3 separate regions of the Homo sapiens genome follow, and regions 2 and 3 are each linked to region 1. Evidence: fine-mapped expression QTL. A gene starts in region 1. Each other region holds a variant in brackets. All regions are shown on one strand. Distances are from middle to middle.

Region 1 (7,874 bases):
CTTTCTCTAACAGGTGTTGTGGCTGTTGAGCTGAAGTCTCACCATCATAGCTTGTGTTGTAAAGCAAGGAGCAGCAAGCTACGGGTCTGCAGGCCAAATTTAGCCTGCTGCTTGTTTTGTAAATAAAGTTTTACCGGCACACAGTCATGCTCATTTGTTTCTACATTGTCTATGGCTGCTTTCTTGCTATAATGGTAGATGCAGAGACTGTAGGGTTCATAAAACCTGAAACATTTACTCTCTGGCCTTTTACAGAAAAAGTTTACCCGCCCCTGGTCTAAAGGAAAGGACAAGAAATTCTCTCTCCCAGTTTTAGTATGAAACATTCTTTTTATTTTTTATTTTATTTATCATTATTACTATCTTTGAGATGGAGTCTTGTTCTGTTGTCCAGGCTGGAGTGCACTGGTGCAATCTCTGCTCACTGCACCCTCCGCTTTCCGGGTTCAAGTGATTATCCTGCCTCAGCCTCCCAAGTAGCTGGGATTACAGGCATGCGCCACCATGCCCCGCTAATTTTTATATTTTTAGTAGAGACGGGGTTTCACCATGTTGGCCAGGCTGGTCTTAAACTCCTGACCTCAAGTGATCCACCCAGCTCGGTCTCCCAAAATGCTGGGATTACAGGCGTGAGCCACTGCGCCCGGCCTTCTTTTTCTTTTTCTTTTTCTTTTTGAGATGGAGTCTCGCTCTGTCACCCAGGCTGGAGTGCAGTGGCGCCATCTTGACTCACTGCAACCTCTGCCTCCTGGGTTCAAGTAGTTTTCCTGCCTCATTCTCTAAAGTAGCTGAGATTACAGGTGTGCACAACCACACCCAGCTAATTTTTTATTTTTATTTTTGGTATTTTTAGTAGAGACAAGGTTTCACCATTTTGGTCAGGCTGGTCTCGAACTCCTGACCTCAAATGATCTGCCCGCCTTGGCCTCCCAAAATGCTGGGATTACATGTGTGAGCCACCACACCCAGCCAGTATAAAACATTCTAAATAAGTTATCTGCTGAGGGAGCAAGATTGTTTGAGACCAGGAGTTCAAGACCAACCGGGGCGACATAGCAAGACTCCTTCTCTAAAAAAATTTTTTTAAATTAGCCAGATGTGGTGGCATACACCTGTAGTCCCCACTACTGTGGAGGCTGAGATGGGAGGATTACTTGAGCCTGGCAGTTCAAGGCTGCAGTGAGCTATGATTGTGCCAAGTCACTTCAGCCTGTATGACGGAGCAAGACCATGTCTCTAAAAAATAAATAGATAAATGAATACATAAACAAATAAGTTCTCTGATTGGCCTGGCTTCAGTCACATGACTGAAGGGGGATGAAGTGCTGCTAGGGTCTTGGGTCACATGTCCACCCTGGTGCCAGCCCCTCTAGAATCCTATGATCAGAGTGGAGCTGGAGCACAGACTCACAGGGCATGGGGCTCAGGAGAGAGAGAAAGCGAGGGCAGACGAATACAAGGACTGTCCACCAAAGGCACGATGACCTTTGTTGTACATTTGTAAATGTATAAGAACAGTAAATGGAAATTTCCAGGAGGCAAGAAGAGAGAGCAGATGTGGAATTCTCAAATGCTATGTCAGATCGCCATGGGCAGATTGTCAAGAGAAATGTTTGGGAATCTGTCCCACACTCAGGAATAAAAGATGAGAGTGGAAGAGAAAGTTTGGTCAGGTGATCCTGCCAGGGGACACAGAGGACAGGCACTCCTTCCTTCACTTTAAGCCTGTGAGGGTGGCTTCCAAGGGATTTCTCAGAGAGCTCAATATTTGGCACTCAATTTGGAGGGCACAGTGGCAGGAAGGGCTCATGTGCTGTTTCAGAGGCAGAGCTATGCTGCTGTGCTGGGACCCACCTGTTCACTAATGTTGGGGCGAGGAGTGTGCCAGTGTTTCCTGAGGACAGATGTGAGCTGGGTGGATGAGCAAGCACAAGACCCATGGATCCATTTAGGTCCTGTCCAAAAGTCCCTCAGGAAGGGCAGAGGGCCCCTCCCCTCCACAGCCACCAGGTAAGCATCCACCCAGTGGCACATCTGCTTGAGTTAAGGGGACTTCAGGAGACAAAGCAGCAGGGAACCACCGAGGAGCCCATGAATGTTCCCAGGAGAGACAGGGTCAGCTTTACCCTCTGCCAATCCAGATGGGATTGGAGCCCTTCCCCACTTCTCCCTTTCTCCCTTCCCGGTGGTGGTTCTAGATGGGTGGAAGTGGGCTGAGCGAGCCGAGGGAGGTTTGGGGAAGGAGATGGCACCAGGCACAGCCCCCTTTCCCCTTGCTCATCTCAGGCCCTAAGGGGTCCAAGGGGGAAGATTTAACTTTGATTTTGAGCCAGGTGATCTGCTCAGACTTTTTAAAAAAAACTTTTAAGGTGTCATACACAAATAGTAACATGCAAATATTTAGAATACAGTTTGATGAATTTATACACATTTACAGACCCAACGTTACAAAACGGCTGTGCTGAAGATACAGAATGTTCCCAGCCCCCTAGAGGCCTCTCCTTGTGCCTCCTTCCAGTTGATACCCCAAAGGCAACCAGTACTCTCACCTCTAACGCCAGATTGTTCTCACCTGCCTTTAAGAAATGAAGGTATTATATATACATACACACAGTGACATGCACTCATCTTAAGAAGACAGTTTGAAGAATGTTTACTTATGCGTGCTCCCATGTAACTACTACCCAAATCCAGGCATAGAACATTACCAGCAGCCCAGAAGGTTCCTCCTCTTGTTCCAGTCAACAACTCCGGCATAGGCAGCCACTCCTCTTCTTCTTCTTCTTCTTCTTATTATTATTACTATTATTAAGACGGAGTCGTGCTCTGTTGCCCATGCTGGAGTGCAGTGGAGCGATCTTGGCTCACTGCACTTTCGCCTCCCGGGTTCAAGTAATTCTCCTGCCTTAGCCTCTCGAGTAGCTGGGACTACAGGCGCGCGCCACCACGCCCGGCTAGTTTTTTGTATTTTAGTAGAGACGGGGTTTCACCGTGTTGCCCAGGCTGGTCTCGAAGTCCTGAGCTCAGGCAATCCGCCCACCTCGGCCTCCTAAAGTGCTGGGATTACAGGTGTGAGCCACCGCGCCAGGCCCACTCCTATTTTTAGCTCCAGAGATTAGTTTTGCTTCAGGCTCCCTTAACGTCCTGCTTCAAACCCCTATCTGCCCCTTCATCGGCTCCACCTGGAGGCCACCGCTTCCACGGAAGCATGACCCCTTCCCCTGCACCCGCGCGCCCCAGAAGCTCTCAGATACCCCCACGATTTCGGTGACCTTCCGCAAGCTCCAGGAAAAGCCCCTCCTCTCCTGACGCCAAGGGTTTGTTGGGGTTGGGGGGTATCTCCATCAGCCTCCCTCCCCCAGCCACCCAAATTAACCAACAATCTTAGTAAATGCAGCGACTCGCTAGGCAAACCCAGCCTGGAGACAAATATCCGGCCCCTTTCCTACCAAACTGTCACACCTAGGCATTGGTCTGCAGGGAGGGCTGGACAGTGGAAACTGAAACCCTCTGCAAGCCATCACGAATCCACCGGGCACTGGGGACGCTGGCTCCCGCCTTGGCAGCATCCCCCAGAAGCCTGGGCCCTGACCCCACACCGTCTGGGCCTCAGTCTCTCATCGGTAAAGTCAGGGGTAGGGCCCGAGTCTTCCAGGACCGCTTCGAGCTGGGACAAGCCGTTTTAAATAGCCCACAACCCGCCGAGGCCATCAGAGCTGCGCCTGCCGGGCCGCCCTCGACCCCCACCTCGGCCGGGCAGGTCCGAGGCCCCGCAGGCAACATGGGCCCGCGGACTGCGGGACGGGGCTCGACGGCCTGAGATCGCGACTCTGCCTCTCCGATACTTGGGGTCGTCTTCGGCCCCGGGATCCGCGACGCGCGCGGTCGGACCCCGAATACTGAAGGCACCGGGTCCGCAGGGCGAAGGCGCACACGCCCACCAGGCGCGCTCTGCGCATGCGCGGGCTCCGCAATCTCAGCGGCCCACTCGCCCCGCCCCGCCCCCCCCACCCCCACCCCGCGCCGCTCCCCAGGCCCGGCCCTGCCTTCCCAGCATCCCGGCTCCCTACGGCAAGCGGCGAGGCCCGAGCCCGCCGGGAGCAGGGAGCCGGGCGCGGGGCGGGGCGGCGCGCTGAGGTCAGCGCGGCGGCGGCCGGCCCCGTAGTGGTTGGCTGCGCTGGTGCTGGCCGCGCCCTGGTTGGCTGCGGGCCGCGGGGCTGGGCCGCCGGGTCGGGGCTGGGGTCGGGCTCGGGCGCCGGCCGGGCTTGCGCAGCGCTAGGCTCCTCGCCGCTCCTAGTCTGCGGCGGCGGCGGCGGGGAGGGCGCGGCCGCGGGCGGGGCTGAGGGCGGCGGGGGCGGGCCGCCCGAGCTGGGAGGGCGGCGGCGCCGAGGGGAGGAGAGCGGCCCATGGACCCGCGGGGCCCGGCGCCCCAGACTCTGCGCCGTCGGGACGGAGCCCAAGATGTCGGCCTAGGCCGGGGCGCGACGACGCGGACGGGGCGGCGAGGAGGCGCCGCTGCTGCCGGGGCTCGCAGCCGCCGAGCCCCCGAGGGCGCGCCCTGACGGACTGGCCGAGCCGGCGGTGAGAGGCCGGCGCGTCGGGAGCGGGCCGCGCGGCACCATGTCGGCCAAGGTGCGGCTCAAGAAGCTGGAGCAGCTGCTCCTGGACGGGCCCTGGCGCAACGAGAGCGCCCTGAGCGTGGAAACGCTGCTCGACGTGCTCGTCTGCCTGTACACCGAGTGCAGCCACTCGGCCCTGCGCCGCGACAAGTACGTGGCCGAGTTCCTCGAGTGGGGTAAGTGCGCGCCGGCAGGGCCGGACCTGCGGCTCTGCGACCCCCGCGCCCCAGCCCGCGCATCCCCACGCCCGCCCATCCCCGCCCGGACAGACCCTGCCGCCCTCCTGCCCACCCAGCTCGTGGGCTTCGCCTCCTCTCGCTCTGGCAGCGCCCCCAGGCCCGCAGCCCATCTCTCTCCAGCCGCTCCTTGCACCCTCGTCCCTCCGCTAGCTTTTCATCCCTCCTTGCCCTCCCTAGGCTCGACATCCGCGTTCGATCGTCCCGCCCCCTCATCCTGCCCCTTGGAGCCACATCCTACGTTCCCACTCCCACCCCCTCCCCCCCGCCGGGCCCTCGCCCTGGCGGCTTCCTAGATCCACCCTCCGAGTCTGGATATCATTTCCTGCAGCACTCACTGGGATATCCGCCCCCGCCCCCGCCCCCGCCCCCGCACCTCGCCTTTGGGGTCCGGAGGCAGTGTGGAATTAGTTCCCTTTCCCCACCCCACGCTTCTCTGCGTTGTGGGGGCAGCTGGGTGTGCTTTCTGCATCTGCCTCGCCCACTGCCCCGTGGGACCCCCTTGCATCCCCAGGGAGCCCAGCTCTAACGGCCCCTCCTGGGTGACAGCCTGTCTACATCCCCTTGTTGGTCAGAGCCTGAATACCTACTTTGCTGTAACACCTTCAAGGGAATTTTAAGGTTAAGGCTTTATTTTAAATAAACCGTGCAAGAGGACTTTTTTTTTTTAATTCCAATTCTGCTAGACCTTTGTGATATTTGGAGGGGTAGCTGGAGCTATCACTTAGAAACTTTCTCATCTGAATTTTGCATGCCTTCTCTAGTTCGTTCCGGATCTATAATGTTTTAATCATTGGTCAGCTAACCTATTATGCTTTTTTAGGACAAAAATTTGATTAAACCATTTAACGATAATTAGGATCCTAAAGACAGGTAAAAGTGCAGCGTGAAACTCTTTTACTTCATCTCTCCCTAACGGGTGTGCCGGTCAAGACCCTCAGACTGTCTCACCTAAAACCACTGAGTAGGAGGAGGAAATGCGTATGTTCAGGCCAAACCTATGAAAACCTTATCCTTGGGTCATTTGCGTCACTGGGCTAGGACTGTTCAGTTCGAACCAGTAATTTCTAATCTTTGGGGCTGATAAAGCTGATATTTATACGAAGAAACAAATGAAAGTGTTCCACAGTGAGGCCTCCAGGCCTCCTACTCTACTCTGCCAGATTGGTGACTGGAATTTGGAATTTTGTTTACAAATAAAACTTAAGTTGCAATATTCTTTAGAGGGCTTCTGTTGGATTACTCTGTAGTGAAATGTTACACGGTATCTTGTGAGAGCAGCAGTAGAAAGAGGTCCTGAGATCAAGGACAGCCTGTGATGCTTTATTTCCGTGGGAACCACCATTCTTGGTTACTTATAGTATCAGTAAATTAAGAGTATTTGCTTTCTAGCGTCCTTTGTCAGTGACACGATTTCCAACTGAATAATTAATTGACTTCACCGTTGCTTTGAAAGTGAGGTCTTTGGTGCATGTTAAAATCTGAATATTTTGTTTACCTTTTCTTTCTTTTCTTTGGAGACGAGTCTCACTGTGTTGCCTAGGCTGGAGTGCAGTGGCATGATCTTGGCTCACTACAACCTCCATCTCCTGGGTTCAAGTAATTCTCCTGCCTCAGCCTCCCGAGTAGCTGGGACTACAGGCACGCACCAGCATGCCCGGCTCATTTTTGTATTTTTAGTGGAGAAGGGGTTTCACAGTGTTGGCCAGGCTGGTCTTGTACTCCTGACCTCGGGTGATCCACCTGCCTCGGCCTCCCAAAGTGCTGGGATTACAGGCGTGAGCCACTGCACCCAGCTTGTTTACCGTTCCTTTCTGATCACTCGATCTTGAAACCCACACAGTTCCACTGTCAGGTTCAACTTGGTGCACCACCTGTGAGTGTGACTGGGAAGAGGAAGCAGAGGGAAAGTTGGTTTTGCTGGGAAGATGTGGTCCCACTGGCCTCTGGCCTGGGACCTAGAAGATTAGTCTGAGGGCGGGGGCCCTGGGGGCCATTGTGCAGCCACCTCTCTCCACCAGGCATTACTGGTGGGCTTCCCTGGAGGAAGCTCTTGTCAGCATGTGTGGAGGTCATATTTTATGAGATCTGGCCTTTCCAAATCTAAACGGGAACTGTGCTGTAACATAGACATATTTTCAAAGTTGTATTCTGGCTCTTTGGAAATTGTGATTACAAACTACATTATTCTCAGGAACTCAGTTTGCACAAAAGTATAAACTTTCAATTATAGGGAAGAATGGACTTAGAAGGTGGTGTTTTAATGAAATATCAATATATTTTACAAGTATTTAAACTCATTTATGTTAACATATACGTCATTGTAACTCTAAAGTGGTGTATTTCTAGTTAACATGTGTGCAGTTAGTATTTAATGTTGCTTGGAATTGCCTGGTTGTTTCGATTGGAAAGCACAGAATAATGTTTTTGAATAAAACTATTTATAGAGCAATATTAGGTACTCTAACTTCCAAGTGGAATTACTTCTGCTCAGGAAACACATATAGGCTGTCCATCAGTGGACTGTTCAGTTTTTGGATTCACCACTCCATGACATTTGAAACCTCTGATATGTCGATTCCTGTCACGTGGAAAAGCCAACCTTTCCCCACTTCCCAAATCTTGCCAGGTATCTAATGACAATTATGGAGAATTCTTGAAACTTAAGGAAGAAAAGTAGCTGATTCAGCCCAGATTTGGAGGCTTAATGGGGAATATGTGAGGAAATTTGGAAAGTATAGGTAGTAAACTTTTTAAGTTTTAAAGGAAGATTATGGCCTGGTGCAGTGGCTCATGCCTGTAATCCCAGCACTTTGGGAGGCCAAGGTGGAGGATTGGTTGAACTCAGGAAGACAAGACCAGCCTGAGCAACCTGACAAAACCCAGTATCTATAATAAATGTCAAAATAAAATTTTATAAAAATATAAAAATTAGCTGGGCATGGTGGCGCACACCTGTAGTCCCAGTTACTCTGGAGGCTGAGGTGGGTGGATCACTTGAGCCTGGGAGGTCAAGGCT
Region 2 (7,874 bases), 140 kb before region 1:
GATGTATATAGGTTATATGCAAATATTGAAACCGCCTTTGCAAAATTATGACTGAGCCAATGAAAGAGGTCCAACTTAAAGGACTCCATCTTGCCTCCAACCTCCAAGCTATCCTTATTCATTCCTGGGTGTAGGCTGAACTAACTTTGGGAGAAACTTAGTTCATAGTTTATAGTTTAAAACAAAGATAACAGCCTCCCAGGCTCAAGTGAGTCTCGTGCCTCAGGCTCCCAAGTAGCTGGGATTACAGGCATGCACCACTGTGCCCAGCTAAGTTTTTTTTTTTGTATTTTTAGTAGAGTTTCACTGTGGGTTTCACTGTGTTGCCCAGGCTGGTCTCAAACTCCTGGCCTCAAGTGATCCACCCGCCTCAGCCTCCCAAATTACTGGGATTACAGGCATGAGCCACTGTGCCCAGCCTATACTGATAAATTTAATTTGCCTAAAGTTTTTCTTTTTAAATTTAATTTACCTAAAGTTTTTCTTTTCTTTTCTTTTCTTTTTTGAGTCAGAGTCTCACTCTGTCAACCAGGCTGGAGTGCAATGGCACAATCTTTGGCTCACTGCAACCTCCGCCTCCTGGGTTCAAGCAATTCTCCTGCCTCAGCCTCCCAAGTAGCTGGGATTACAGGCACCCGCAACCATGCCCGGTTAATTTTTGTATTTTTAGTAGAGACAGGGTTTCACCATATTGGCCAGGCTGGTCTCTTGGCCAGGTTGAACTCCTGACCTTGTGATCCGCCAGCCTCAGCCTCCCAAAATGCTGGGATTACAGGCATGAGCCACCACGCCCGGCCTAAAGTTTTTCTTTTACCAGACGTGAGCATCTGTGGATTTTGGTAACTATGGGAGGTTCTGCAACCAATGGTTTACAGATACCGAGGGAGGAGTGTATAAATACTTCCCAGAAAAGAAATCACATATTTGGTCTTCATTCTGGCTCCTGACCCAAGAGCATCTAAAACCCTTGGAATTTCCTGAATGATAGGGATGAGAAGAGCATCTTTTGATATTCACGTAAACTAAATGTAAAATCCCAAGCCCCTCAACTGACTGAACAGACCTCTTCTTGGCCAAGGAGACCCCAGAGAAACTAAAAACTGAGTTTCCTGCCAGGAGGGGACGGACCTCCTTCAAACCTCTCCCTTTTGCAGTTTAGATAGAACCGACTAGTGCTAATGTTAAAACAGAGATCATAAGATTCGAAGAGCAGACTGTTTGTGCAATAACAGACCAAATTACAAACAGGACCGAAGGTCTTGCAAAACAAGGATGAGGTCACTCCTGCAGGCCATCAATCTTGCTAACTAGGTCATTTTTGACCTGGTATACGGTGGCTGACTCTGACACAGCATCCTCATCTTACCTTAAACATTCCTTTCTGCTAACTCTGTTTTTAGACAAAGTTTTGTTCCTTCAGCCAACTGCAAATTAAAGAATCTCCGAATGCTCCTGTGCCTTATAACATCCCCACCCTGACACCGCTTGAAAATATCCTGCCTTTCCAGGCTGTGCCAACCTATACCTTCCATGTGTTGATTTATGTCTTCGCCGGTAACTCCTGCCTCCCTGAAATGTGTTAAACCAAACTGTAATCCGACTACCTTGGGACAGTTACTCAAAGCTTCCTGGGTTTGTGTTTGCTCCTGGCTGTGGTCACTCATATTGGCTCAGAATAAATCCCTGCAAAACATTCTACAGAGTTTAGTTTTTACATTAACATTTATAACACGCCCCTTTCAGCCATAGCTGAATTTCTGTTAACAAGAGGACTGGTGGCTGAAGCCCCTAGGTAGCTGCAGGCTGGGGGCTGCAGAGGAGGCCCCCATGTGATTGGAGGGCTGGAACCTTCAGTCCTACCTGACCTCCAGGGAGAGGAGAGGGCTGGGGTTGAGTTAAGTACTGATGGTCAGTAAGTTAATCATGCCCATGTACATAATGGAAACTCCATGAAAACCCTAAACGGAGGGGTTTGGAGAGCACATCCACGTGTCAGGAGGGCGGTGCACCTGACTCCCTGGGGACAGAAGCCCCTGCCATAGGGACCTGCAGACCTCACCCTATGTACTTCTTCATCTGACTGTCCAGTTGCAGCCTTCTAATGAACTGGTCAATGTAAGTGTACCCCTGAGTTTTGTGAGCCCTACAGCAAATTACTGAACCTGGGGAGGGGCCGTGGGAACCCTTGATTTATAGCCAGTTGGTCAGAGTATGGGAGGACCAATGGTGGTAGGTGTCTGTAACCCCAGCTATGCGGGAGGCTGAGGCAGGGGAATCGCTTGAACCCGGGAGGCCAAGGTTGCAGTGAGCCAAGATCGTGCCACTGCACTCCAGCCTGGGTGACAGAGCAAGACTCAGTTTTAAAAAACAAACAAACAAACAAATGAGAGGCTGAGACGTGCACTTGGCTTCTGAACTGGGGGTGGTCTGGTGGGACTGAGCCGTTAATCTGTAGGGTCTGGGTTACCTCCCAGGAGTTCATGTCCAAATTGAATTGCAGGTCACCCAGTTGGCGTGCGGAGAGTTGGATGATCGGTTGGTGTGGGACATCCCCCCCCTCATTTAGTGTCAGAAATGTGAGAAATAGTTTGTCTTTAATAGATTAGACAGTACATTAAACATGGCTGAAGAGAGAGATGAAATGAACATTATTCAGAGTCGTGAATACTCCTGGGCCTGGTTTTCATCATAAACCACCCTGTACCCGCAGAGCTAAGAGCTCTTCATGCTGCCCCGAAGGCTTCGGACTCTCATAGAGTGTCTTACATTGATAGTTGGCTCACTTGAGCCTGTTATTATTATTATTTTGAGGCCTTTAAAACCATTAAGTGGGCCAACCCCACAGTTCTTCTGACTATTGCTTCAGTGCTTTTAAAGTACTCCCCTCACCCCCGCCCCGGCTGGGTGTGGAGGCTCACGCCTGTAATCCCAGCACTTTGGGAGGCCGAGGCAAGCAGATCACTTGAGGTCAGGAGTTCCAGACCAGCCTGGCCAAAATGGTGAAACCCCATCTCTGCTAAAAAATTAGCTGGGCGTGGCGGTGGGTGCCTGTACTCCCAGCTACT[C/G]GGGAGGCTGAGACAGGAGAATCGCTTGAATCTGGGAGGCGGAGGTTGCAGTGAGCCGAGATCGTGCCACTGCTCTCCAGCCTGGGCGACAAGAGTGAGACTCTGTCATAAATAAATAATAAAATAAAATAAAAAGCACCCCTCTACCACATGGACCCAGGCCTCACTTCCCAACGTGCATATCGTCATCCGCCCTGGGAGCCGTGGCAGCTGTCCTGCAGGCCGAGGCTCAGCACCTGCTCACTCCCCCCAGCAACAGGGTCCTGACAGTGGGGCTGCAGGGTGTGTGCTCTCCTGCCCTGAGGTTCTGCCTTTTAGGGCCACTTCTGTACTCTCTAAATTCGGATCCCCTCCACAAGCAGAATCTATGATGTGGGCCATAGGCTGGTGTGCAAGTAGTTTAGTTTTGGAAGTGGTTTAGGGGTCAGGAATGGGGGCCTCTTGTTCAAATGTCACTTACTTAAAGGGGGCTTCCCTTACCAACTGTTGTAGGTAGAACCATATCCCCTCAAAATTCATACGTTGAGTTCCCAGCCCTCAGTACCTCGGAATGTGACCTTATTTGGAAACAGGGTCATTGCAGATGTCATTAGTTAAGATGAGGTCATACTGGAGTTGTTGGGCCCCTCATCCACTATAACTGGCGTCCTTGTAAAACAGGGAATTTGGACAACGACATGCACGCAGGGAGAACAGCACATGAAGACGGAGGCAGGGATGGCAGAGACGTGTCCACCAGCCAGGAGCCAGACACTGCCAGCGGATCACACGCAGCTGGGAGGGGCCCGGACCGGATCTTTCCTCCCAACTCCCAGAAGGAACCACCCCTACTGATACCTGGATCTCAGACATCTGGCCTTCAGAACTGGGAGATAATCATTTCTGTTGAAGCCACCAAGGCTGTGGCACTTTGTAAACGCCTGCCCCAGGAAGCAAATACATAGACCTACAAAAAAAAAAAAAAAAAAAAAAATGCTACCACAAAGCCATCCCTTGCTGTCCTGCCTTGTTCCTTTTTCCTTTACAGCACTTCTCATCACCTGAAATGAGATTATTGATTTGTTGATTGCTTCCCCCATTGCCAGGTAACTCCTACGAGGGTGGGGCTGCACATGGCTCGCTGCTGCGTCTGCAGCGTCTAGCACAGCGCCTATCACATGGTGGGTATTACATGACTGCAATTCTATTACAGTGCTTGCTTTGAAATGTAAACTCGGCTGGGTGCGGTGGCTCATACCTGTAATCCCAGCACTTTGTGAGGCCGAGGCGGGTGGATCACGAGGTCATGAATTTGAGACCAGCCTGACCAACACGGTGAAACCTCATCTCTATTAAAAATATAAACATTAGCCAGTGTGGTGGTGTGCGCCTGTAGTCCCAGCTATTTGGGAGGCTGAGGCAGAAGAATCACTTGAACCCCAGAGGTGGAGGTTGCAGTGAGCTGAGATCATGCCACTGTACTCCAGCCTGGGTGACAGAATGAGATTCCATCTCAAAAAAAAAAAAAAAGAAAAAAAGAAAATGTCAATTCGTTCCAATGCATTTGGACAATTAGGGAACAATTTGAGCACAACATGAATTTTGCAATTGCTTATGTGTGATTGTCTGTAGGAAACACCAGGTGAACACCAGAAACACCCCCAGTGGAACTGAGGTGCACAGGAATGCACACAGTGCATGTGCACACACCTCAGAATCCGCCAGTGGCCTCAGTTTCCCGCTGGGTTGTGAGCCATACCCATTGAGCATTAGTCCAGTTTCACACTGCTATAAAGAACTACATAAGACTGTGTACTTTATAAAGAAAAGAGGTCTAATTGACTCACAGTTCCAAATGGCTGGGAAGGACTTGGGAAACTTACAATCATGCAGGAAGGTGAAGGGGAAGCAAGGCATGTCTTACATGGTGGCAGGAGAGAGACAGTGGGGTGGGACAGAGTCTCTTTCTGTAGCCCAGGCTGGAGTGCAGTGGCACGATCTTGGCTTACTGCAACCTCTGCCTCTGGGGTCCCGGTTCAAGCAATTCTCCTGCCTCAGCCTCCCGAGTAGCTGGGACTATAGGCGCACACCACCACACCCAGCTAATTTTTGTATTTTTAGTAGAGACGGGGTTTCACCATATTGGCCAGACTGGTCTCAAACTCCTGACCTCATGATCTGCCCGCGTCGGCCTCCCAAAGTGCTGGGATTACAGGCGGGAGCAACCGCGCCTGGCCAGTGCCATACTCTTAAACCATCAGATCTCATGAGAACTCACTCGCTATCAGAAGAGCAGCAAGGGAGAAATCCACCACCATGATCCAATCACCTCTCGCCCGGTCCCTTCCCTGACACATTCGGATTACAATTCGAGATGAGATTTGGGTGGCAACACAGAGCCAAACCATGTTTTCTCCAGTGACCCAGGGGACCCTGTTCCCTGCTTCGGGCATCTCACAGGCTATACCCCTTCCTCCATCTACTCCACAAGCAAACTTCAGGCCTTCAAATAAAGTGCCATGCTCATTGTAGTATTGATGTATTCCTCAACAATTTAGCATGTAAAACCCTTCTACCCTCTTTATTAGGTTCCTATCATTTAAAAAAATTGTGTCACTGATGGGGTGTTTTGAGTGTCCTTCCCCAACCTCGTTTTTTCCTTGTAAGTCCTGTGGTTTTTATTGTGCAATTTTGCATAGCCCAGCGCATTTTAGGAATGTGTTTGTTGCATCATAGCCAAGTTGATATATCTGATCTGTTGAGTGACTGAACCAATGCTCGTCTTCCTGAATTAAACCCTAATTTAGGCTGGTATATTTTATATATATATAATTTTTTTTTAAGACAGAGTCTCCCTCTGTCACCCAGGCTGGAATGCAGTGGCATGATCTTGGCTCACTGCAACCTCCACCTCCTGAGCTCAAGTGATTCTCATGTCTCAGCCTCCCAAGTAGCCGGGATTACAGGCACCTGCCACCACGTCCATATAATTTTTGTATTTTTGGTAGAGATGGGGTTTCACCATGTTGGCCATGCTGGTCTCGAACTCCTGACCTCAAGTGATCCGTCTGCCTTGGCCTCCCAAAGTGCTGGGATTACAGTCGTGAGCCACCATACCCAGGCTGCCTGGCCTATTTTTCTAATATTCTAATGAAATGAATTTGCTAATTGCTTGTTGAGGCTCTTTACAGCTGAAAAGCTTACAGCATAACATGGAACAATGTAGTGTTAATGTAAGGAGAGGAAAGACCCAGTAAGTGACAGCCTCCTTCCTCCTGCCCAAGACCCAACCAGTCCAGAAATAACATGACAAACGGGACTCAAGAACATGCACATGAAAGCGCCAGCTTTGTCACAGATCACGTCTGGGCTGGAGCAGATAACTTTGGTGGCTGCACCATGGATCTTCTTATTCCTACATCACAGATTTGGTCTCACTGACCAGAGTTAGGCAGCCCCAGTGGGAATTCCTGTTTCGGGAAGTCAGGGACCGCGAACGGAGGGACCAGCTGGAGCCGCGGCAGAGGAACATAAATTGTGAGGATTTCATGGACATTTATCAGTTCCCAAATAATACTTTTATAATTTCTTATGCCTGTCTTTACTTTAATCTCTTAATCCTGTTATCTTCGTAAGCTGAGGATGTATGTCACCTCAGTACCACTGTGATAATTGTGTTAACTGTACAAGTTGATTATAAAATATGTGTGTTTGAACAATATGAAATTAGTGCACCTTGAAAAAGAACATAATAACAGCGATTTTTAGGGAACAAGGAAAGACAAACATAAGGTCTGACTGCCTGCAGGGTCGGGCAAAAAGAGCCATATTTTTCTTCTTGCAGAGAGCCTATAAATGGACATGCAAGTAGGGAAGATATCACTAAATTCTTTTCCTAACAAGGAATATTAATATTAATACCCTGGGAAAGGAATGAGTTCCTGGGGGGAGATCTATAAACGGCCATTCTGGGAATGTCTGTCTTATGCGGTTGAGATAAGGACTGAGATACACCCTGGTCTCCTGCAGTACCCTCAGGCTTACTAGGGTTAGGAAACTCCACCCTGGTAAATTTGTGGTCAGACCAGTTCTCTGCTCTTGCACCCTGTTTTCTGTTGTTTAAGATGTTTATCAAGACAGTACGTGCACCGCTGAACATAGACCCTCATCAGTAGTTCTGCTTTTGCCCTTTGTCCTGTTCCCTCAGAAGCATGTGATCTTTGTACCTACTCCCTGTTCTTACACCCCCTCCTCTTTTGAAACCCTCAATAAAAACTTGCTGGTCTGAGACTCAGGCGGGCATCACAGTCCTACTGATATGTGATGTCATCCCCAGCGGCCCAGCTGTAAAATTCTTCTCTTTGTACTGTCCCTCTATGTTTCTCAGCTGGCTGACACTTGTGGAAAATAGAAAGAACTTACGTTGAAATATTGGTGGTGAGTTCCCCCAGTAAGTTCCCTCTTGAAGTTCATCACAGGGAACTGCAGGTCAGAACGTGAGCTTCCTGCAGGCGGCAAGTGCCACCCATATCCCAGGGGCTCCTCTGTCCCTATCTCCTGACCTCATCTTACTCCACAGGCCTGGCTGGGCCAGGAAGCCTTGGACTCCTCTCTGAGCCTTTGGCCCTATGCCAGAGAGAATCCCTCTGCCCTCCAGGTCTCTTCCCAATTGGGAGGAAACTGGGGTCTTAGTGCCTCTGGGCATGGGGAGGGAATGGCATTCCTGGGAAATAAGCAGCTGCTACTGGCGTCAGTGGGGAGTGACTGCAGAGACTTCTGGGAGGACCAGACAGAGGCCCGCTCTGGGAACACTGGAAATGCCACAACCAT
Region 3 (7,874 bases), 61 kb after region 1:
GAAGGACGGGCAGTGCCTGAGCCAGGGCGGGGAGGCTGGGGCTGCCCTTGGCGGTGGCAGGGAGGCTTGAGGAAGACTCCACAGGGTGGGACAGCTGTGGAGAGGCTTGGAAGGGATGAGAGTTTGCTGGTAAAGATTCTGTTGAGAGCAGGGACCTAAAATGAAGGCTTCTGTCGTTTCCTCTGATTAGCTGGGCCGCTCCCTTCCTCAGACAAGCCCACCGGTGTGGTGCTTCCCTTCCTTTGGAGACACTGCAGTCTGGTTGAATGTGATGGGCGTGGAGTCTGACTGTTGGGCCCAGGTCTTTGCTCTGTCCTTGCTTGCTGGGAGACCCCGGGCCCATCCCCAAGCCTCCCGTGTCGATGGGGTCTTGGTGCCAGAGGCAAGGGCAGGTGGGAGCGTGAACAGGACAGCACTGGCCTGTGTCTCACAGCCTGGGCCCGAGCGTGGGCCTTCATGGTGACAGCAGCTGATATGATTAGGTTCTCCATAAATATTACAGGGTCCCTGCCCCGGCTGATAAACAGGGCGTTTACTCCCTGTGCGGGTTAGTTAAAAGCTAGCTGTCCAGACCACAGCATCCATCTCTTCACAGGAAATTTGCACCAAGGAAGGCGGCTCCTGTGAGGTTCAGGCCACGTGCTTCCCCAGCATTCACTGAGGCACAGCGGCCCCAGAGATGGAGGTGTTGGCTGCCACCCTGACTCTGGCTGTGATGGTCTTGCCTGTCCTGGGCCTCTCTGACCTGTGAGATCTCCCCACTGGGGCCTCCACAGACTGTGGGCTTTGTGGTCTGAGCTTTCTGAGTGCTGCAAGAGACAGGCTGTCCTCAGGCAGAGCTCTACGCAGGCTCACCTCGGGGTCGCCCACTCCCAGCACACGGCTGGCCCGGTGGCGAGGGAACTCGCGGGGAAGTGACGGGCTCAGCCCTGTTAGCAGATGTTTTTTCTCCCATTACTCCAATTTCTACTTAAGTAGGAGCTTTTCTGAGGTTTCTGTTGGAGTGAACCTATAAGTAATTATCTTTCGGCTCTTTTATGATATAATCTTTCCAATAAGAACTGCTGATACCATGTGTGATGTTAACTACTTTGCCTCCCTTCTCTGGTCTGGTGTCGTCCTCACATAACATGAGGGCCTGGAGAATTATTTTTAAACCCATAGGATTGATGGGCTATTAACTGTGCTTCTGCTTTGGGTCACTAGCTTTTAGAGTGCCCTCTCCAACCTCAAGCCCTTTCATCATTCCTCCCATTGATTAAATACATCACTTACTGAAGTCCACTCTCTGCCATATGCACCCCTGAAGATGGCGGCGTCGTGGACGCATCGGGGCGCATGTTCCAGAAGGAGGGTCTTGGGTGACAGAAGAGCAGCTGAGATGCCACGAGCCAGACCTGGAGCCTGAGAACCTCGCCATGGAAGACTGGCCTGTAACTGTCAGGTTTAGTGGTGACTAAATGTGGTATTCTCTCCCCTTCTCTTTCCAATTTGTAGTACTTAGTCATGGATTACTATGTGGGTGGTGATTTACTGACCCTGCTCAGCAAATTTGAAGACAAGCTTCCGGAAGATATGGCGAGGTTCTACATTGGTGAAATGGTGCTGGCCATTGACTCCATCCATCAGCTTCATTACGTGCACAGGTAACCGGCTTCTGATATATTTTATGGAAACCACGTTTAATTGTTAAAAGACTCCTTTCAGAGCTCCCAAGTCCAGGCCGTCCCAAGAAGCCATGTAGGTAGCGAGTCCCCACTTTGAGCTGCCGCAGCACAGACTGATTTGCCCACATCACCGTCTTCCAGCCCCAGCAGCCGGTGGATCCCAGCTCTCATTGTTGCAGTTGTCATGGTCTGCTGTCAGCCGAAGCCACTGTGTCTTTTGATATTTATTTGACATTGACTCAACTTCTCCCCGTCTGAGACCCCCTCCCTAAAATGCCTGTGCTCCCTGGGGCTCACGTGGGCCCCGGGGTCCTCTGTCTCTACCGCCCAAGACCCCCTCCCTAAAATGCTTGTGCTCCCTGGGGCTCACGTGGGCCCCGGGGTCCTCTGTCTCTACCGCCCAAGACCCCCTCCCTAAAATGCCTGTGCTCCCTGGGGCTCACGTGGGCCCCGGGGTCCTCTGTCTCTACCGCCCAAGACCCCCTCCCTAAAATGCTTGTGCTCCCTGGGGCTCACGTGGGCCCCGGGGTCCTCTGTCTCTACCGCCCAAGACCCCCTCCCTAAAATGCCTGTGCTCCCTGGGGCTCACGTGGGCCCCGGGGTCCTCTGTCTCTACCGCCCAAGACCCCCTCCCTAAAATGCCTGTGCTCCCTGGGGCTCACGTGGGGCTCAGGGTCCTCTGTCCTTACCACCCTGAAATGTCTCGTGTGGGGCCTGGGGCCCTCTGTCCCCACATTCTTTCTCAACTCTGGTCTTCTCTGTGCCGTGCTGACCCCTGAAGGGCCCCAGGACACTCACAAAGGAAATAGGGCTTGAGGAAGAGGCTTCCATCACTGCGACTTGCAGGAGTTGAGCTGAGAGAGCGTGTGGGGCAGAGGCCTAAAGCAGCTCCGTCTCCTGCTCTCAGGGGCCCCCTCTGCCTTCTCGGCTGGGAGGGCAGCTCCCCAGTGACTCAGCCACTGAGTCCACATCTTCACATCCCTCTTGTCCTGAGACTCAAAGATTCAGTCCTGTGGTTTGTTTTGGTTTTCGTTGTTTTTAAAAACTAGTTTTACTTGTATTTTTATTACAAGATAATTTTATGGTAATAGGTTTAAAAAGTCAAACAGTTCTATAGAGCCTCCAACCAAAACCAAGCCCAGCCCTGGCCCCGCTGATTACACTTGGTCAGGTAACTATTGTAAATTTGTAAAATTATTTTTCCAGCATCTGCCTTCATGTGTCTTAAGTCACAGGTTTATATTGCTAATTTCTTTCTTTTCTTTTTTGGCTTTAGATCACATCTATGAAATTGAAATTTTAACTCTTTTACATAATTACCTCTTTCTCTCTGTCACCCATCTCTCTCACATATACTTCCAAACTGTCTTCCTTTCTCCCACATCATCCTTTTCATTTTTATTTTGATATATTTTTTAGGATGGAGTCTCGCTCTGCCACCCAGGCTGGAGTGCAGTGGCGTGATTTCACTCACTATAGCCTCTGCCTCCTGGGTTCAAGAGATTCTCCTGCCTCAGGCTCCTGAGTAGCCATTACGCCCAGCTAATTTTTTTGTATTTTTAGTAGAGATGGGATTTCGCCATGTTGGCCAGGCTGGTCTTGAACTCTTGACCTCAAGTGATCCGCCCATCTCGGCCTCCCAAAGTGCTGGGATTACAGGCGTGAGCCACCGCGCCCGGCTCCACGTCATCCTGATTAGAATGGTTAAAATCCATCCTTTCAGCTATGGTTCAGTCAGCATTTGGTGTTGATAATACTGTGACTGCGTAACTATGACAGCAGCCTTGTAGTTGAGAACTACACTTACATAAACTTCTGCTTTCTCTGGAGTTGATAATTGCCTTGCTTTTTATTAGCTTTTCTTTGTAGCTGTCACTAATTTGTCCCCAGATATTGTGGCCACGTTATGAAGCTCCGTACCGGACATGCATCGGGTAGTCTCGATCTGGTTTTCCTTGGCGCTGTCCCTTCCATCGTTCCCCTCCTCTCTTCCACGTTGGTTCCTCATTTGTCCTGTGCTGCACTCATTCTGAGATGGCTTTTCAAGTGCAGAGATCCCCTCTCCCTTTCTGGGACTGGCTCCCAGCTTTTCCGAGCCGTTCATTTTTCTTTTTCTTGGCTTTTTAGTTTGGCTTGGTAGCGCGTGTCCTCCAGTGGTGGCTGGAAGGGGGGTATATGAGAGAGTTTTTTGAAATCAGTGCCTTTATTCCATGTGTGTCTGTGACTGGTGCTTTATCCAGTGTGGAGATTTTAGTTGGAAACCACTTTCCCCTTGGGACTT[C/T]GCAGGCATCACATGTGTCTGTGTCTTCCACCTTGAGGCTGCTCTCGAGAGGTGTGAGGCCATTGTGGTCTCCATGGCTTTGTGTTCTGAGCTGTAGGCCTGTGCTCGGGCCCCCTCCGTGGTGATCAGGAGGCTTTCCCAAGCAGACACAGCCCCTCCTGTGTGGGGAGCAAGGGCGCTGCTGAGTTATAGCTCTTCCGTCTTGCTGGAGTGCTGCTTCGTTGCTAGAGGAGGAAGTTGAGGCTAGAGAGGTGGGCGCCTTTCCTTAGCCTCATTGCTGATGGCTCGCACCTCCCAGCACACAGGGAGCTGTCCCGATAGAACAGACACTCATTTAGTGTGATGAGGTTGTGGACATTGCTTTCTCTTTCTTTCTTTTTAAAAAATACATTTCTTAACATAGTTATGCTTGCTTTTATAAATTAGTATAGGTTGTTTTTTTTTTTTTTTGAGATGGAGTCTCACTCTTGTTGCCTAGGCTGGAGTACAATGGAGCGGTCTCAGCTCACTATAATCTCCACCTCCCAGGTTCAAGCAATTCTCTTGCCTCAGCCTCCCGAGTAGCTAGGATTACAGGCATGCACCATCACACCCAACTAATTTTGTGTTTTTAGTAGAGATGGGGTTTCTCCATGTTGGTCAGGCTGGTCTAGAACTCCTGACCTCAGGTGATCCACCCACCTCGGCCTCCCAAAGTTCTGGAATTACAGGCATGAGCCACCTCCCCCGGCCCATAAGTTAGTATAGGTTTTAACATTTAGATTTTATACTGTCTTCTTGGTAGAACTTAATTCACAATAGAGAAATAAATGTCTTTGTATTTATCACAGATCTCCAGGGAAATTAGTTTGACCACCTTTTAAATTGTTTTTCTCCCCCTAAATAGAAAGCGTTCTCCTCATTCTCTCTCTCTTTTCTTTTTTGAGACGGAGTCTTGCTCTGTCACCCAGGCTGGAGTGCAGTGGCATCATCTCAGCTCACTGCAAGCTCCGCCTCCCGGGTTCACGCCATTCTCCTGCCTCAGCCTCCCGAGTAGCTGGGACTACAGGTGCCCACCACCACGCCCAGCTAATTTTTTTGTATTTTTAGTAGAGATGGGGTTTCACCGTGTTAGCCAGAATGGTCTTGATCTCCTGACCTCGTGATCCGCCCGCCTCGGCCTCCCAAAGTGCTGGGATTACAGGCGTGAGCCATCCTCATTCTCTTAATTGGCTGTGTAGAAGCTTTGCTCAGTCGTTTGACGTCCGGGCATAGTAGACATCAAAATATGTAATTTTAAAACTTTATTTTTCCCCCCAAATTAACTCATTATTCAGACTGAGTGCCCAGATGCAATCTAAAAATAGAACAGAGATTTTTCTAGGAGGCCTGTCTTACCCCAGTCTCAGGTGGGGGCATTGTGAACATTTGGTAGGGTCAGAAAGAAATGTCATTGGCGCCAGAGTGGTGCCGCTGGCCGATGTTACGGTGTGGCCAACTTTACGGCGTGGCTGACGTTACAGCATGGTTTGGAGCCCGTGCCACTGTGCTGCCGCTTGGGCCCCTTCCTGGGGTTAGTCGGGTGCTGTGGGGATCCCACCCCGCAGGCGGGGGTCTGCAGGTTTCACAGCTGCTGCCTGGTTTCCGCAGCTGGACCCCAAAAGCCTTCCGGGTGAGGAAATCAGTGGCAGACCAGGACCCTGTGGGTGCCCCTCACAGGTGGGTACAGCTCCTTCCTGAGAGGTCAGCCCCTGATGATATCCGGAAAGGCAGAGATCATGAATGACACAAAGGGTTTCAGAGAGAGAACATCGGCCACAGTGGCTCACGCCTGTAATCCCAGCACTTTGGGAGGCCTAGGCAGGTGGATCACCTGAGGTCAGGAGTTTGAGACCTGCCTGGCCAACATGGTAAAACCTGTCTCTACTAAAAATACAAAAAATTAGCCAGGCTTAGTGATGAGCACCTGTACTCCCAGCTGCTCGGGAGGCTGGGGCAGGAGGACTGCTTGAACCCGTGAAGTGGAGGTTGCAGTGAGCCGAGATCGCGCCATTGCACTCCAGCCTGGAGAACAAGAGCGATACTCTGTCTCAAAAAAAAAAAAGAGAGAGAGAGAGAACATCACATCCCTAAAGAGAGAGCAGAGAGTATAGTGTATGAACAAAATAAGAACAGAGTACAAATTTTAAGAAAAAGAATATGTAGAAAACAAAAAGTCTTGGAAAATAAAAGCTAAAGTAGAAAGTTGAGTAGAAGAGGCAGAAGATGAAGTAGAGGAAATCTGACAAAAAGGAAAAAAAGAAAAGAAAACCTCGGAGAGAAGATCTGGCGGTCAGAGTGGCTCTGGAGCCACACCCCAGGTGGTGGACTGTGCTCTGGAGGCTGAGGCACACCTGCTGTGGGAATCAGACCTCTGCTGGTTTTGCAGCAGGAAGTTCCACAAGGGGAACGGATGGAAGTGGGAGTTGACATCACTCAGAAATGGTACGGTGAGGGACAGAAGCAGCCTCCCTTTTCAGTGTCAGAGGAAGAGCTGGAAGGGAGACATAAAGCCTGCAATTCACCATGGCTCTTTCACCCACACCTGCTGGATGCCACTGATTTTAGCCAGAATCTCAGCAGCTGGGAGAAAATGCACTTGGGGGAGCCTAGAGCTGCTTCTCAGCGCTGTGCCTGACTCTCCCCTGAAGACGCCGCTGCTCCCCGCTGTGCCATTAGAGGAGAATGGACATAGGCAGTCCCAGCACAGTGGCCCATGGGGACCGTCAGCTCTCTCAGTTGGCCTGGGCATCTGCCCATCTAAAGGCCTCGGCGGTTGGGAGCCATAGGTCAGCCCTTGCCCTGAACCTCCAGTGCTCTTCTGTCAGGAGAGCTTTCCTCACACAAACAGCAAGTTCACTTAAAAAAAAAAAATCAACCACCACCACATGTTTTAAATACAGAATTATACGGCGCAGATGACCCCCAGTGCGTGCAAATGGCCCCTGGAAGGTATACAAGGAAGATGGCCTTCCGGAGACCCCTCCTCGGCCTGTCTTCTCAGAGTGTACTGTGTTGGTGGTCCTGGGGTGGCCCCTGGAAAAACATCCCTGTTTTATAGGGAATTCCTGGCAACCAGGTCCTGTTTAGCCTGGACTCTGGTCGTTGCATTCCTGCTAACTCGGTCCATAGAACACCTGTTGTGGCGTGTCTCGGCGCCTCCTTACTCTCTTCTGTGTCTTCCTAGCCTGTCTCAGGCCACTTGGGACATTTTTCGTGTGTATGTGAAATTATGGTTATTTGCCTTAAACATTTTCCTATATAATCATTTCTCCATTTCTCTGAATTGCCCTGCCTTCCATTCCCAAACCAAAAAAGTTAAGCCTAAATGATGAGATTTTTGGGGAGAAGAACCAGTTTGTTCCAGTCTAAATAAAGTAGTGTAATTATCCTTGTCTTTAATCCATTTCTTCCCGGCAGCCAGGTATAGAGCTTGTTACACAACCTCCTTGAGCTTCTCTTCATACATTTGTCCTGTATGCATTGCTTCAAGTCTTCCTTGTCATAAAACTGGTCATCTTTTATTTACATGGGTGACTCACAGAAGGGAGTGGAGGCAGGAAGCCATGGTGAAAAGTTTGTGAGGTCGAGTGAGCGCTTCTGAGTGCCCTGGTCATGGGGAGGGTAGGGGAAGGGCTGGGTCTGCTTCTGCTTCCAGGAGTGTTGGTCTTCATTTCCCCTCCCTCCCTCCCTCTTTCCCTCCATCCTTCCATCCTCTCATCCTTCCAACTCTCCCTCTCTCTTTCTGCCTTTCACTCTTTTTTCATGAGAAAAGAATGCAGAAAAACTGGTGGACGTGGGAGAGTCTGTTAGATGTCCCCAAAAGTGCTGTTAATAGACGTGCTCTTGGCCAGAAGCCTCGCATCCCATGTGGAGCGGCTCATTGAGAACCCACCTGCGGCATGCCC

Alleles and levels. Alleles are on the strand shown, and positions count from the first base shown. SD is a standard deviation of normalised expression in the study named. Not every link is listed here.
For the expression in monocytes of the gene that starts at base 4,245 in region 1, C is the high allele of the variant in region 3 and T is the other (large effect, 1.5 SD a copy in Schmiedel 2018).

The links. PIP is the estimated chance that this variant, and not a neighbour inherited with it, causes the effect. A credible set is the group of variants that fine-mapping cannot tell apart.
Region 2: its variant is the best candidate, but not a certain one, in a credible set for the expression of CDC42BPB in whole blood (TOPMed, PIP 0.51).
Region 3: its variant is the best candidate, but not a certain one, in a credible set for the expression of CDC42BPB in monocytes (Schmiedel 2018, PIP 0.74).

Annotation. Positions count from the first base shown.
Region 1 is chr14:103,053,920-103,061,793 of GRCh38, reverse strand. CDC42BPB (CDC42 binding protein kinase beta) reads left to right here and starts at 4,245. Exons shown (of 37, transcript NM_006035.4): 1 at 4,245-4,795. The coding sequence starts at 4,621. RefSeq lists an enhancer at 3,108-3,758 and silencers at 3,754-3,863, 3,904-4,403, 4,494-4,573.
Region 2 is chr14:103,192,327-103,200,200 of GRCh38, reverse strand. It overlaps LOC124903391, which reads left to right. Exons shown (of 2, transcript XM_047432044.1): 2 at 3,726-4,006. Among named protein-coding and RNA genes, the nearest start is that of LINC00605, 7.2 kb to the right of the region's middle. The variant C/G (reference allele first, on the strand shown) is at 3,066.
Region 3 is chr14:102,993,337-103,001,210 of GRCh38, reverse strand. It overlaps CDC42BPB (CDC42 binding protein kinase beta), which reads left to right. Exons shown (of 37, transcript NM_006035.4): 5 at 1,498-1,646. Among named protein-coding and RNA genes, the nearest start is that of CDC42BPB, 60 kb to the left of the region's middle. RefSeq lists an enhancer at 2,264-2,810. The variant C/T (reference allele first, on the strand shown) is at 3,949.